Linked DNA regions of Homo sapiens: region 2 is linked to region 1. The links come from fine-mapping of genetic effects on gene expression. Tissue or cell type: whole blood. Region 1 holds a variant in brackets; the other region holds the start of a gene. Each region is shown on its reference strand, or each on the opposite one. Region 1 overlaps LUC7L (LUC7 like). Region 2 holds the start of MBNL3 (muscleblind like splicing regulator 3).

What was found. PIP is the estimated chance that this variant, and not a neighbour inherited with it, causes the effect. A credible set is the group of variants that fine-mapping cannot tell apart.
Region 2: it holds the start of MBNL3, and the variant in region 1 is the best candidate, but not a certain one, in a credible set for the expression of MBNL3 in whole blood (TOPMed, PIP 0.71).

Annotation. Positions count from the first base shown.
Region 1 is chr16:187,779-196,111 of GRCh38, forward strand. LUC7L (LUC7 like) reads right to left here. Exons shown (of 10, transcript NM_201412.3): 7 at 5,149-5,237; 8 at 2,763-2,792; 9 at 2,190-2,357; 10 at 1,212-1,561. The coding sequence ends at 1,420. Among named protein-coding and RNA genes, the nearest start is that of HBQ1, 11 kb to the left of the region's middle. The variant A/G (reference allele first, on the strand shown) is at 3,118.
Region 2 is chrX:132,485,825-132,494,157 of GRCh38, forward strand. MBNL3 (muscleblind like splicing regulator 3) reads right to left here and starts at 3,214. Exons shown (of 9, transcript NM_001386889.1): 1 at 3,027-3,214. RefSeq lists a silencer at 3,493-4,062 and an enhancer at 6,008-7,207.

The DNA.
Region 1 (8,333 bases):
ATCTCGGTTCACTGCAACCTCTGGCTCCCGGGTTCAAACGATTCTCCTGTCTCAGCCTCCCAAGTAGCTGTGATTACAGGTGTCCGCCACCACACCCAGCTAATTTTTGTATATTGGTAGAGACAGGGTTTCACCATGTTGGCCAGGCTGGTCTCGAACTCCTGACCTCAGGTTATCTGCCTCCCAAAGTGCTGGGATTACAAGCGTGAGCCACCGCGTCCCCCTTTACTTTGGTCTTAAAGTACCTGCCTGATGTACAGCAGGTATGTTAGAAAGAACTGAAAGGTGTTGGCCAGGAGCGGTGGCTCACGCCTGTAATCCTAGCACTTTGGGAGGCCGAGGCGGGCAGATCCCGAGGTCAGGAGATCGAGACCATCCTGGCTAACAAGGTGAAACCCCGTTTCTACTAAAAATACAAAAAATTAGCCAGGCAAGGTGGCAGGCACCTGTAGTCCCAGCTACTCTGGAGGCTGAGGCAGGAGAATGGCGTGAACCTGGGAGGCGGAAGTTGCGGTGAGCTGAGATCACGCCACTGCACTCCAGCCTGGGCGACAGAGTGAGATTCCGTCTCAAAAAAAAAAAAAAAAGAACGAACTGAGAGGTGGGAAACATAATCAGCCCACATGGGACATGAGTCAAACCATTTTTTTTTTTTTTTTTTTTTTTTTTTTTTTTGAGATAGGGCTTTCTTGTCACCCAGGCTGGAGTGCAGTGGCGGAATCAAGGTTTGCCTCAGTGTCCTGTGCTCAACAGATCCTCCTGCCTCAGCCTTCTTAGTAGTAGCTGGGACTACAGGCATGTGTCACCATGCCCAGCCCCATGGGTCTTTGTTTTCTGCTAGTAACTTCAAAAGGGGACATGCAGTGTAACTCACCTGAGTCCCAAGTTAAGGCTATGGTAGCAGCTGAGCAGACAAGACAGCTTTTCCTAAATAAATGAATGCAGAATGGGGACCCCTCCCTCCTCCCCATGGGAGATGGGCAGCTCAGACACTCAGAAGGTTGTGTGGGAGCGAGCAAACAAACACCCATGCACACCTGGGTCCCGTCAGTCAGATGCAGGGGACAGGAAGTGCCCTGCCATCTACTGGATGCCAGAAGACAAGACGTGACCCACGAGTAAGTCACGGTTTCTGTGAGGTGCTGGTGGCACTGGCACAGGGTCACAGTGAAAAGCCTCTACGCAGAGGACAGCAGAAACCCCCCGCAGCCTCAGGAGGCAGCATCAGATTTATTTATTCCTACTCAACATGACCCGGGAACACAGGAGCAACTCTGTACACTTCTAGAAACTCACAGCTAGCTCCAAAACAATAGAAATTTTAAACTACAAAAGATGAGTTGTATTCAGCAAATATAAAGGGTAATTTTAGACTGTGTGAACGTTTATCAGACTATTTACAGCACCCGGGAGACGGGTTCAGATCTCGCCGGCCTCCTTCTCTTCTGACCTCCGTGAAGCCATCTTCCCGTTGGAGCTCTCAAGCCTCCAGTCCGGGGGCCCTCGCTCGCTCCGCCCGCTCTCCCAGGACTCCTCTCTGGATGCCCGCTCTCTGGAGAACCTGGGAAATGGGAACCAGAGGCTCAGTGGAGGCTGCTGCCCCCCTTCTGCTGGCCGCTCAGGCACTGACGATGGACCCGCAGACCAGGCCAGGCAAGGCCCTACATCCCCTATACCTGGAAACCCCCCGGAGGCCAACCAGACTTGCCCACCACATATGGAGTGTTAGATAGCCATTAAAAAGTGACCTTTGCGAAGATTTTTAATAAGGAGAGCCTTCACTGTAACATAAACAGTGCAAAGGAGAATACAACACTATATGCACAGAACATGACACTACGTAAAAACACAATGGAAAAAAAAATATCAAAAACAAAAACCAAAACAGAGGTAAGCAGGGCCTGGTCAGGACACAAGTCTCAGCCACTCTGAGCATGGACGCAACAGTGCACAGGCCCCAGGACGCAGGCAGGGGACAGTGCCTGTGCAGCCCATCACCTGGCGCCGTGCGAGCTCCTCCACAGCCCTCTCGCCTCTTCCCACACCTGAGTCCCGTTCACGACTCCCCAGCCCTACTCCTGAGGGTGAGCCCAGCCCCATCCCCACCAGACACGGCCCTCAGCAGACCCTGGGAACACAGAGAAGGGCTCACTCCTGGTTGCAGCTACCGAAGGAGTCAGAGTAGTTACTTGTATTTCGCACTTCGGTCCCGGGAAGCCCGACGATGTCCCCGGCTGTGGCTCCGGGAACGGCTGCGGTGGCGCCGATGTCTATCTCGGGACCGGGACCGGGACAATTTCCGTCGCTCTCGGGAGGTAGATCTTGACCGCCTCCGACGCCGATCCCGGGAGCGTGACCTGAACAATCAGAAGGCTCCAAGGCTGAGACTCTATAGGTGCCAACACTATGAGGGCCCCACCCCTCAGCAGATTCTGCTTGCTGCTTTACTGACATTTTCTCCTTTACTCCCACAAATTTAGGTTTAAAATATTTCCATCAGTTAATCTCCAATGGCTAGGTCCTTCCAATGAGGTCTCCTGAAAACATGTGGCCTGGATACTCCTGTCACCCTGCAGGCCCCGACCTTCCCTCTCATTAACACTGGGAACCCTCCACGGCACCAAGCAACCTCTTGCCCTGTGCCCTTCACAAGCCAGCCCTACCTGCCAGGTAACATTTGTAAAGGCATAATCATTAAATATTAAGAAAAATGCTTATGGAAAAAAAAATTTGAGAACATTTTAATGGACCTGGAAACCTACCTCCTGCGATCTCTGGTTCTTGATCCCGACCTAAAAGGGGGAAAAAAAGATGAACAAGGCCAGGCATGGTGGCTCACACCTGTAATCCCAGCACTTCGGGGAGGCCTAGGCAGGCAATCACCTGAGGTCACGAGCTGGAGACCAGCCTGGACAACGTGGTGAAACCCCGTCTCTACTGAGAACACAAAACCTGGCCAGGCGTGGTGGCGGGTGCCTGTAATCCCAGCTACTCAGGAGACTGAGGCAGGAAAATCACTTTAACCTAGGAGGCAGAGGTTGCAGTGAGCTGAGATTGTGCCACTGCACTCCAGCCTGGGCAACAAGAATAAAACTTTGTCTCAAAAAGAAAAAAAAA[A/G]AGTGAATGACTTCCCGAAAGCACCCCTATTCCTCACCCTCTTGGGGGAGGACTCCAAATTTAAGAAGTGAGGCACCTCCCCCAAAGACCTGCTGTTTTCAAGCTGCCTGCATGTTCCCAGTCTGAATGGGAAGTGCCAATGCTCCCATCCCCACAGCCACTCTGTGGCACACTCAGTGTCACCTGAGCCTCACAGACAGGCCCACATCCGAGCATCAGACGCAGCCCTGTAACATTACAAGGGCCGTGAAAAGTCTGTGCACACTGACTGTGCTGCACTCAAGTCCTACAAATGATTCTCCAGTCTTTACAACAGACACCAGCACAGAATGTGCAGACAGCGAGTGGGGCACACCAAAAACACAGAAAAGGAAAAGCAAAGCCCGAAGTTCCAGGCACAGGCTTCCTGTCAGGTGAGAGTCATCAGCTCATTCTGCCACACAACCAAGAGGCTGAAAAAGGCAAGCTATGAGGCCTCATTCTATGCCCGTAAGCCATTAAGGTCAAGTGGCCCCATGTACATCCGCAACACAAATGGCCTAAACATGACAGTGCATGTAAAAATGTAAACTCCATGCAAAAAATGGATTGTGTGTTTTGCTTAATATTTTCTTCTATACTGTTTAAGTTTCTCTCCAATCAGAATCTCCTGCTGGTAAAACAACAAACGGCCGGGCGTGGTGGCTCACGCTTGTAATCCCAGCACTCTGGGAGGCTGAGGCAGGCAGATCATGAGGTCAACAGATCGAGACCAGCCTGGCCAACATGGTGAAACCCTGTCTCTATTAAAAATACAAAAATTAGCTGGGCGTGATGGCACAGGCCTGTAGTCCCAGCTACTTGGGAGGCAGAGGCAGGAGACTCGCTTGAACCCAGGGGGTGGAGGCTGCAGTGAGCCGATATCGCACCACTGCACTCCAGCCTGGTGACAGAGCGAGACCCTGTCTCAAAAACAAACACAATAAACATTCGCCCTGAGTTATGCACTGAGGAATTATTTCAGGAAAAGTGGTTTGGGAACCTTCCTGGACAATGAGCTGTCTCCAGGAGGATGTGGATACTTCTGGCTCCTACCTCTTTGAACTCCAAACAGACTCAACAGCCCCACCTCAAGATGGCCTCTCAAGCTGAGTGTGGCCAGAGGCATCTTCTACTTCCCACCTCCTCCCACTCCAATACACCACACCCAGCCTTCCAACCTCACCAAGCAGCAACTCCGGGCCAGAAACCAGGAGACCAGCTTCATTTCCTCCTCTGCACGCTTCACACACTACCAGCAAATCCCATCAGTTCTATCCCAGAACTTTCCCCGACTCCTTGCACCCCTTACCTGGCTTAAACTGCCACCTCCTCCATCTGGATTTTCCCACCTAGCTCCCCAAGGTCCTGCTGCTTCTACTCCAGCCCAGCACGCTTGCCAAAGGGGAGCAGGCACCACCCCTCCTGCGTAAACAGGTGTCCAATGGCCCCATAGCACTCAGTAAGTAAACAGCAGTGCCCACACACAGCCTCCAACAGCTTGGATCCCTTACCTGACTGCCATGCACACACAGTCCTGCGCTGGGACGTGTTTTGTTTTGTTTTGTTGGACTGAATATGCTGTTTACTTTTTTTTTTTTTTTTTTTGGTTGAGATGGAGTCTCTGTTGCCCAGGCTAGAGTGCAGTGGCACGATCTCGGCTCACTGCAACCTCTGCCTCCCGGGCTCAAGTGATTCTCCCACCTCAGCCTCCGAGTAGCTAGGATTACAGGCTCATGCCAGCACGCCCAGCTAATTTCTGTATTTTTAGTAGAGACAAGGTTTCACCATGTTGGCCAGGCTGGTCTCGAACCCCTGACCTCAAGTGTTCTGCCCGCCTCAGCCTCCCAAACTGACAGGATTACAGGCGTGAGCCGCCAGGCCTGGCCTTACTATTTTCTTTTATAACGGCCTATTGGGCAGGCCCTGCCTATTCCAAGCAACAGTGGAATGGACCGAGCAGGGAATGCCCGAGGCCAATGCAGGCCATCCAGTGCCAGCCCTCAGGCTCACCTCCTGCTCAGACGCTCCTCCCGTTCCCTCTCCTCTCTCCTCCTCAAGCGATCCTGATTTCTCTTCTCCTGCTTTTCAGCGACAGTTTTCTAAATAAATGAAACAAAAAATGAGGAAGAGCAAGTTACACAAACCAGAGTGTGAATGCTACTTAACAAATCACCTTTATATGAGCTCAGTATTGGTAATTTAAAAATTGAAGGGACACTTTTAGGAAATGGGAATACTTTTTTTTTTCTCTTTGAAACGGTGTCTCACTGTCACCAGGCTGGAGTGCAGTGGCGTGATCTCGGCTCACTGCAACTTCCACCTCGAGTTCAACCTATTCTTCTGCCTCGGCCTCCCAAGTAGCTGGGATTACAGGCACATGCCACCACACCCAACTAATTTTTGTATTTTTAGTAGAGATGGGGTTTCACCATGTTGGCCAGGATGGTCTTGATCTCTTGACCTTGTGACCCGCCTGCCTCAGCCTCCCAAAGTGCTGGGATTACAGGCATGAGCCACCGCGCCCGGCCAACACATTCATTTTTAAAACTTCTTAATGAAGAAGATAACACATGAAAAAATGCTTTATCATTACATTTTTTTTTCCTGAGACAGAGTCCGCCCTGTTGCCCAGTGCAGTGGCGCGATCTTTGCTCACTGAAGCCTCTGCCTCCTGGGTTCAAGCGATTCTTCTGCCTCAGCCTCCTGAGTAGCTGGGATTACAAGCGTGCCAGCACGGCCGGCTAATTTTTGTATGTTTAGTAGAGACGGGGTTTCACCATGTTGGTCTGGCTTGTCGCAAACTCCTAACCTTGTGATATGCCTGCCTCGGCCTCCCAAAGTGCAGCAATTACAGGCGTGAGGCACTGCACCCGGCCTCGTTTACATTTACTTTTTTTTTTTTTTTGAGACGGAGTCTCGCTCTGTCACCCAGGCTGGAGTGCAGTGGCGCAATCTCGGCTCGCCGCAAGCTCCGCCTCCCGGGTTCACGCCATTCTCCTGTCCTGGCCTCCGGAGTAGCTGGGATTACAGGCGCCCGGCACTGCGCCCGGCTAATTTTTTGTATTTTTAGTAGAGACAGAGTTTCACCATGTTAGCCAGGATGGTCTCGATCTCCTGACCTCACGATCCGCCCGCCTCGGCCTCCCACAGTGCTGGGATTATAGGCATGAGCCACCGCGCTTGGCCACTTTTTTTTTTTTGAAACAGGGTCTTGCTCTGTCCACCCAGGCTGGATGGAGTGCAGTGGCGCAATCACAGCTCACCGGAGCCTTGACCTCCCAGGCTCAAGCAAGCCTCTTTAGCTCCGCCTCCTGAGTAGCTGGGACTATAGGCGTGTGCCACCATGGCAGACTAATCTTTAAACATTTTTTATGGAGATGGAATCTTGCTATGTTGCCCAGGCTGAGCTTGAACTCCTCAACTCAAGCAATCCTCCTGCCTTGGCCTCCCAAAGTGCTGGGGTTACAGGCCTGAACCACCCAGCCTATCATTAGATTTTAACAATGTGGTAACAAACTGTCTATTCTAAGTGGTGCTATACTTCTAACTCACAGGGAATTGATCACATTGTTTCAAACCAACCCAGATAGGTAGGAGACTGTACAAACTTTATGGTAAAAAAGGACGGATGTATCTCATCAAACACATCTTGCTACTGGGAGCAGAATCCCTACAGCCAAAAAGCAGCCCAACCTCAGGGTGCTGGGTGCTACGCTGGCTTTAGAACAAACTGAGTTGGAGGACAGCAGGCCAGGGGAGGTGGACCACAAATCCTCTGCAACTGGCTTTCAACACAGGATGATGTGAATCATCAGGCTTGATGAAGAAAGCAATATAAGGGGATGAGAAACCTCGCCAATGAAAATACCGTCAACACAAGCTGAGTGGAAAAGCACCGGGCACCGTTCTGTATACCCACTACTCCCAATATCAACTCTAAGACATTTAATGCCCCTCATCTGTGTCAAGTGAAGCCCTGAGTGGGAGCAAGTCAGAGCCAGTAAGACAAAGAATCACGAGTCTTCTCCATCCAGAGAGCCACGATGGCATAAGGATAATCTTCCATACCCAGTGTGGATGAGAGCACGCTCCCCACAAGGGCACGGAAAGTATGCAGAGCTGGGTGACTGGTATCTCCAGCTCTAAACTTTCACCCATGCTCATCCTGTGTCTGAAGCAGGGCACACATGGATGGACACCTTTAAGGTGATGTTTAAGGATGGCATTTAAGCCAGGTACGGTGGCTCATGCCATTTCAGCACTCTGGGAGGCTGAACTGGGAGGATCATGTGAGGACAGGAGTTTGAGACCAGCCTGGGAAACATAGTAAGACCTCCTACCTAAAAAAAAAAAATGAGCCAGATATGGTGGTGCATGCCTGTAGTCTCTGCTACTCAGGAGACTCAGGATGCAGGGCCACTTGAGTCCAGGAGTTCCAGGTTACAGTGACAATAAGCTATCAGCTACCATCACATCAGTACACTCCACCCTGGGTGCCAGAGGGAGACCCTGTCTCTGAAAAAAAAAACGAAAAAAATCCTCTGTTGTCTAGGTTGGAGTGTAGTGTCGTGATCACAGTTCACTGCAGCCTTGAGCTCCAAGGTCCAAACAATCCTCTTACCTCAGCCTCCTGAGTAGCTGGACCTACAGGCACACACCACCATGCTTGGCTAATTTTTAAATTTTTGGTAGAGACAGGGTCTCCTTATGTTGCCCACGCTGGTCTCAAACTCCTGGATTCAATCGATTCTCCTGCCTTGGCCTCCTAAAGACTGGAATTACAGGCGTGAGCCACCACACCCAGCCTCAAGGATGGCAGTTTTTAAAAAAATTAAGGATTAGCCAGGTGCAGTGGCTCATGTGTAATCCCAGCACTCTGGGAGGCCTAGGAAGGTGGATACCTCTGGGACTACTGTGAGTGAGGCCTCCTCTAACTAGGGCACAGAACTCCCACTCTCCCTATCATTAAGAGGTGCACTTCCAAATACATTGTGCACTGTTACTTTAATAATTATTTATCAAAGTCTGTAATACGAGTTGTGTTGTTTTGGTCAACTCTATGCTGCAATGATAAAACAAGCTTTCTAACCAAGTTAATGCTTCTTAAGGTAGAAGGGAAAAACATTTCACAATATTCACATTTCTAATGCAGAGATACACATTAAGGAAATAAAAGATTGCAGATATTAAAAAAA
Region 2 (8,333 bases), not on the chromosome of region 1:
TAGAGAAAGGCAGAAAAATCCCACAAACACAACTTCTGATTTCTATTTTCTTGATATCACATACATTTGAATGAGGAAAAATCCATCTGTTTTGCCTAGTAGACAATGTCATAAGAAAACTCACCAGCATGGAAGAACCTTGATGAAGTAAAGGTGAGTGTAGCCTTCATGCTCTTACAGACACTTGATAATGTTAACATGGCAGTGACCATTATCTAACTTTAATTACAGGATGAAATTACTTGTCAAAAATGTACTATAACTTATGTACTGTCAGCTATGCCCCAATCCCTGTTTGTAAGCCTATCAGGCAACATTATTTATTTGAAAACAGAAAAATTCTGCCACCTTCCTGAATTTATTGTACTATAAGCAGAATAAAAGTAAAATGTTATCAATAGAAATCTTCATCATTTTAGAGCTTCTCACTCCATTCCCTCCCCTCGTCCCTCACACATAAAGGCAGCTGGGTGGAGAACAAAACTGTACTAAACTATACTGTCAACATCTGCACAACAGTCAAGAGACTGTCACTGTTCCAGCATGTGTGGTACTATACAATCACTCAAAAGACAAAACCTTTTTTATTCCCAAGCTGCTGTGATACTGGGAAGTATCACAGTGAAGCTGGAGAGATAATAATACACCTACTGGTCAAAAGCATGAAGTATACAAGTGCCTGGAAGTACAATGAGAGGCAAGAGAACCCTTTAGAAGCAAATACAATGCAGACAACTAGGGGAATGTACATTCTACTCTTCTTTGAATGTTTAGGTTCTTGTGAGTGCATAAAAATGCCTTCCGTTTAAATTAAAAGCTGTACCCAAAATCTATTCCACTGTGAGTTTATAAGCTATTCTTCTTTTTAATGTAACATTTATTAAGCACCTAGTTTGTGCAAAGCATTATCTAGGTAGAGGGTGGTGCAAGAGAATACCAAAGGTCCTTTGCTACCAGCTCATAATCATAAAAAGCAGCTGTTGTGAAATGCCTGAAGTGGACAGTTGAGGAAAAAAAAGGTACTTTATAATAGTCCTGGGAGTCATTACGATTGCTTAAAGTAGCAAAGGAAATTAGAGAAATGAAGTAGCTCTTAGAAGTAGAGCAAAACATGCAGTCACCACCTCTAGCCCAGCACTATATCAATTATCTCTCAAAACATTTTTTTTTTACAAACTCCTTCACTTATGTTTTCATATAAGGTCTCCAATCTCATCACTGTATGAGGCAGCAGAATGTTAACTGGCAAAATTTCCTAATTTCTCTGACACCAGTTTAGCTTGTCTATTCTGGCCTCAAGGTTTAGTATTTTCACTTTTCTTTCTTTCTTTTTTTCTTTTTTTTTAAGGATGCATTTGGTCCGAAGTCTTTTAGCAGCAAGGTAGCACATCCGGAAGCAAACAGTACTGAACTGGGATCTAAGTCCATAATCACTAAAAATGGGAGAAGTTGCTTTTTCTCATCCTCCCTTTACCAAAATGCAAGTGTTTATTGCTCTACCTGCAGGAACTCTCATTTTAGACATGAAGCAATGAATTGCCCCACATACTTCTTTCAAGAATAATATGAAAAACTGCTGAAAATTTGTTGTATAGTAATTCCATTGTAAACAGTTTGGTTGTTTGTTTCTAGGTAGACTACAGCACCTGGGCAGAAAACTGCACCATGCTTTAATAAGGGCAAAACAATATTTTTCTCCCTTTCCACACACTTGCTAAATTTAGTAGCAGAGCGTCTGCCAACCAAGTAGTTTCTACTGCTTTGGGAGAAGGAGTGAACAGCGATAGAATATTATCAGCTGAGCTGTGGGCAGAAGCCCATTTTAGTCTATATTTGAAGAAGTGTTGGTAAATATGAAAGCATCCCCCAAAAGTATCGCACATTAGAAAAAAGTTAAAAATTATTTTAAAAAGTAGTTAAACATTCAGGATTAGATTTTCATGGGCCAAGGAGAAGATGGAAATATAATCAGGAAAAATCCAAGGTGTCTGATAAGCCTCATTGTCTATTTACCTTTCACTGGAGGGGGAAACAAAACAAAACAAAATTCAGATAAATTGTATCAAGCATGGATGTTTAGTCATTCCCACATACCAACAATCTGTTTTCCAAACATTATATCAGTAATCACCCAAACGTTTATTCACTAAAGCAGGGAGTCCGCTTAATAAAAAAAGTACCAATCACTTCAAAATTAAATCTTGCAAGTTTTGTTTTAATTGATTCTTTCCCATGAAGTCTACCCACAAATACGGAGAGGCTGTGGGGATCCCAGCTCAATTTACAAACGATGTAAGAACATCTAGGAGAAAATAACTCCTTTAAAACATATTACTTTAATTAGAGCCACAATTAATTTATCTGTTTTATCTATCATCTAGCTAGCTAGCTAGCTAGCTAGCTATCTAAGAGTGCTCAGAAAAACACACAGTAGGTCTATTACCCTAATTATGAAACCACAACAAAGAATCACTTAAATGTCAACTTTCATTACTCGTCTGGGTTTAATTTCGTTTTCTTACCATAAAAGCTTATTGTGTGAGTGTTAAAAACTAAAGTTCCCTTTTTAATAGTCTCCTAAAATCTACTCTCATGCCCTTCAAACCCCAGTAGTAAAAGCGAGCTGCCCAAACGTGTTGACTCAGGGCAGGAAGAGACAAGGTTCTGCAAGGAAGCTGTGGCACTGCTCACGATATCGCGTGAAAATGGGGAAATTCGTTGTTAAAAAGCATTTGCTGATTATATGCCATGCAAGAAGTTCCTTTAAATTAAAAAGAAGAAAGTAGAAAAAAAGAAAGAAGGAAGGAAGGGGAGGAGGAAGAGAAGAGGAGGAAGAGAAGGAAGAAGAAAAAGGAGGAGGAGGAAAGGAGGAGGAAAATGATCAAAGCTCTAAAATCGCAACAAAGTTGCAGGATGACTTTTCCTCCTATTTGCTATTTTGTAAAATGAAGTTTAAAAGGCATTATTTCCTCGGCGTCCGAGGAAGGCAGCCTCTCTTACAAATCCCAATTCATCTCCAGCCTTACCTTACGCTGCTAGCGCAAACCCAGAGGCTAAGGGGCCCTGCTCTCAGCGGCAGCAGCAGGGGCAGCGGCAGCGACAGCGGCACATGCCATCTGTTAGCGGCAGAAGCAAAAGCAGCGCTGCGCGAGGTGGCCCCGGTGCCGGGAGAGCCTTTAGCAGGGGTGCATACTGAATGCCGCCATTTTAAAGCGAGGTTCCTGAAATCATTAGATATAAGCAAATTAAAGCCCGCCCCACCTCCAGAACTTCAGGGCTGGGACTTGCAACCCGGCTCCAAGTCGGCCGCTCTGGGGTATAAAATGTCAAGTCTACAGACACGCGCACGCTGACTCTCGGACGGAGGCGACGGTTCCCCCTCTCCCTTCGGCCCCCTTGACCCCTTCGTGCTTTTTGCAAGACTCCTTTCGGTTCCAGGGGCCAGAATACTTTCTTTTCTGGGCTCCTCGAGGCCCCTTCCCGGGGCCGGCCGGCGGGCTGTGGGAGGAGGGGACAAGGCCACGGGCCGGCCCTACCCGCTCCTCCCAGGCTCTTGGTTCAGTCCACTCGGAGCACACCTCGGAGCGCCCCAGCTCCCTCGCGGAGGCCGGGCGTGGGGCTCCCGCCCGGGCTCGCAGCTACCATAGCAACCCCGGTCCCAACCCCGCCCGGCCTTTGCCAAAGGCGTGCCCTCCTCCCGGGCCAGTGCCCTCCGCCGGACGCCAGACGTCCCCTCGCGCAGCCCCGCCGACCCCAGGCAGCCCGGGCTGGGGCCGCGCCTCCGTGCGTCCCGCGCCGGACAGACGCGGCACGCGGAGGGAAACGGCGCCAGCGAGGGGCTTTAGGCGCCAAAACGGAAACTCCCGCGAAACTCCGCGGGCCAGCGGAGCGCGGGCGGGCATCCGGAGCGCCGGACTCGGAAGCGGCGCACGCGGCCGCCCGGCCCCGCCCCGCCCGGCCAGGTAGCGCGGCGCCGCCGCCAACCTCACCTGGCTCCGCGCGCCGCTGCGGGACGGGCGGGAATGCGGCCAAGGGCCGCCCCGGCTCCCGCGCCCACCCCGGACTCTCTGGCCTCCGCCTCTCTCTCACTGCTCCCAAAGAGCGCCAAAAAGTCGCGCTGCGGCTCACGCTCGGAGTGCGGGCACTTTCTTCCTGTAGGGCGCTGTTTCGTCGCGAAATATATTCTTTGTGTGGTTCGCTCACTCGTGCCTGGTTCTCCGAGAGCGCAGCGCGGGCTTTATTCTCAGGGGGTGTGGCGCCTCGCCCCCAAACCCAGCAGCCCAGCCCCCGCTGCACAGACCCTTTGTCATTTCATTAGGAAGGGAAAGGGGGACAAATCATAACGCTCAGATTTTACAAAAGCGAAAACAAACGAAGCAGGCACACATCCCCAGAGGCGGGGTTGGGGTAGGGGTGCAAAGTTTCTGGCTCTTCAGGAACTGAAGTGCCAGTGAGAAAGGCAGTGTGGTTCACAGCGGGACGCTCATAGACACTTCCCAGACAGGTGAGGCGAAATGGGTCCTTTCAAAATTGATCTTAGTCGATGAATAAGTCCACTCGCTACAGGCTAAATAAATACATTCATACTCACCAGCTGCCTTCTTGGGGGTTTTATCTTTCATAAATGCCCCAATCGTTTATTTCCCTCTAAGAATTTCAGACAGGGAAATGCTGATCAGTGCAATCTGTTCCCCTTCTTCCACGGAGTTTGCAGGATAAGAGGAACCCTGAGGTAAGGTTCCAGATACTTTGGAAAATGGACAAAGCAAATGCAATTTTATATCTTGATTAAAAAGTGTGCATCTGCACAGGGAAATTACAAGTTTCGATTTAATGCAAGTGTAATAGGAGCACCAGCTGTCCCTTAATTGGAGCCCCACAATAATAAATGCGTGCTTTTATTTAATTTTACGAAGACAATTGTAGTTGATAACGCACACATATGCAGGATCGTCAGTGACAAGCTCATAGCAATTCATGGCTGCTTTCCTGTAATCAGCTACTTCACCCAGAGACAGAGTTCTACATGCTCTGCACAAAGTGCAAAACATTGCAGGAGATATTTAAGCAGCAGTTAGGTTGAAAAGTGGAGTGAATTCTCAGGCTAATTATACTTTTTAATTCTGATGGACTGATCCAAATAGAATTCTCCAGCTAATTTTAGGCAAGAAATCAATCTGTTTGTTAAGTGCAAGATAATAGAGTAGGATGGTAATGGCTGGGAGGACAAGACTGGGTACAAACTGCCCTTCAAATAATTGAGAAAACCCCCGATGGTTTTGGCAAGTATCGTGAAAGTCATTGGGACAATGCGCAGGGATGGTGTCCGATACTTTGTTATACTGGGTAGAAACATAGCATAAGTCAAGAGAGTAGGAGTTGCTAGTTATTTGAGAAAAGGGGGAAAAGACTCTAATTCCTAACCACCTCTTCCCACCTTCCTTCAAATTTGCCGAATTGCCTGAACTGCTGTAAAAGTCAAATGTGTCTGACATACAGGAAGTGGCTTTGGCAGTCCCAAGATCTACCACAGCAAAAAGTAGGCAGTGTTGGCTATCACAGTCAGCTAGAGAGAAGGGCATGGGTGAGTTACATAACTTTATACCCAATGCTCTAACAAATGAGGAACTGTTATCACAGTGAGTCAACAAAGGAGTCTTTATATTAAACATAGCTTGGGTCAACACCAGCTCTCTTACCTCTGTCCACCATTGCGAGCCACATCTGTGGGACATTCGGGGTTTTGCTAATAACACAAAAACTGGCTCAATCTTATTGAACTGCTGAAATAATTGTTTTGTCTTAAATTTAAGGCATAAATAGGTCAATTTGCTATTTTTTGGGATACTATAGCTTCAACATTGTCTCCTGCTTTTAATTTCTGGCCAGTGAAAATTGCAAATGAGACTTTATTATTCTCTCTTTCCCACACTGGAGGGGAAAGAAACCTTATAAACAAAGTTTAGCCTGGTAAACTGCCTTCCTTTTATCCAGGGTGGCATGACCTCCACAAATGAAGCTAGGCAAATTTCCATGCCACCAGGCCACTGGGGAATGTTGTCAAAGGCACTAAGAAATTGCTATTCCCTCCCCTCAGCATTTTAAAAAGGCCCATTTGCTCTCTGGGGTGGACTTACCTTGGAATTACTTTCTTTCCATTTTAGTAGAGTAGTTAGAGCTAGCCAACATTTTCTCTTCTGTTCTTCTCTTTAGGCATAATTGGTGGCATGACCCAGGAAAAATAGGGTCGTGTACTGACTGATATGCAAGATGAATTCTTACAATAATGTATGTACATTATAGTCTCAGAATACATATGCCTGTTCCCCCATTGCGTTTTGAGATCACCTGACAACCACTATCCTGATGGATCTTCAAAAGTCAGTGTCTTGCAACTCGGATTGAAAAATTAAGTCCCTGGCTGGGTGGAGTGGCTCACACCTGTAATCCCAGCACTTTGGGAGACCAAGGTAGGTGGATCACTTGAGGTCAGGAGTTCCAGACCAGCCTCGCCAACATGGTGAAACCCCGTCTCTACTAAAAATACAAAAATTAGCTGGGCATGGTGGCACGCACCTGTAGTCCCAGCTACTCAGGAGGCTGAGGCAGGAGGATCACTTGAGCCTGAGATCGTGCCACTGCACTCCAGCTTGGGCAACAGAGTGAGACTCTGTCTCAAATAATAATAATAATAATAGTAATAATAATAATAAGAAGAAGAAGAAGAAGAAGAAGGGAAGAAGGAGAAGGAGAAGAAGAAGAAGAAAGTCCCGTCCTTCTCTCCTACTCAGTCAAATGCAGGTGTGTAAGCAAACATTTCAACAAACCTAGGGGATATGCTTTTTCTGCTCTATGTCTTAACGCTTGAGATGGACACTTACACAAATGTAAGGCTAGGATTCTGGGTAAGGATGTAGTAACCTCTCAAGTAGCATGTTCTTCCAATAAATATAATTAACTTTGATGTAGGAAAGAATTCTAAAAGTTATGTGATGGTTTAATAACGAAACGATTATTGTACTCCACCACCAAACAAATGTTGCTGTATTTTTAAAGATGTCGCATAGGTGAAAAGTTAAACTCACGCATATATGAGTGAACCAGGGTCTTGAGAAGTTTTTGAACTTTCAACATATTCGATCAGAATTATCCTTTCACTCCTCTGCTAAGCCACATAACTCATTTATTATTCTTTGAAACAGACAGTCAACGTGTGCTATTGGACATTCAGGCAAGGCCGTGCTATGGACAAAAGGTGAAACATGTTTTTCTGTTTTGAACTTGTGGAATTATTCTCACTAGCCTATCAACAAGAGTATTATTTGCTACTGCTGTGTTCTAGCGATGGCTCCACAGGCTCCAGCCCCACAGCAGTATTTGTGGTCATTCCATACAGAAGCCTCTGGCCATTTAAGGGTGGTTCAAGAGCTAAAGACACTGATTATTCATTCATTCCTGAAGAGTCTTTTTCATTCAGAGTTGGGAATTTGGACTTTGGGGTTCAACACAGAGGTTCCTACTAAATAAACAGGAAGAAAGCAGAATCTGGTTGTTAAAAGGGTTTAAACAATCAAGTAAATGTTGGCTTCCAAGGTAACCCCTCTGTAAAATGTTACAGACTGTATTCTTACAGAAGAAACTATAAGGCAATTTAGTAACTAGTTGAATGCAGAAACAAATTGCAAGCATAGATAATAAATTGATCAATAACTCTCAGGTTGCAAAGAAAATTTCTGGAACTCAGTGTTTTTTTTTCACATGGACAAAATTGTCAGAATTATTTGGACATATTCTAATAAATACAGAAGAAAACAGGACAAATTTTTTTTAAAAAATCCTTCAAAGCACACCTGGGCCTGATGGATTTACAAGGTGAATTCTCTTCCAAGCCTTTTAAGAACATATTATACAAATTATCCTTGATTATTGAAAAGTATAGTATATTTCTTAAAATTGCCCTCAGAGGGAAATGTGCTAAGAATGATACAGATAAAATGATACAAAAAGGTAAGAACAATTTAAAAATGGAAGCATGATATAAAAAAGAAAAGTAAGCCCTATTCTCACTTAGAAATACGATAATTGTAACAGTAACCATTTAATGTAGAACTACTCTAGGCACTGTACTAAGTATTTTTCACAAATTAACTCATTTAATTCTCATAACAATCCTTGTAATTATTTTTATGTCCCCATAAAAACAGGAAAACTGAGGCTTGCTAAAAGTAAAAAAGTTATTAGGTAGCAGAACTAGGATTCTACACTATTTTTCTCTGATGACAGGGCTCATGTTTTAACTACTGCACAGTACTGAGTAAAGCTACTATGAGGTC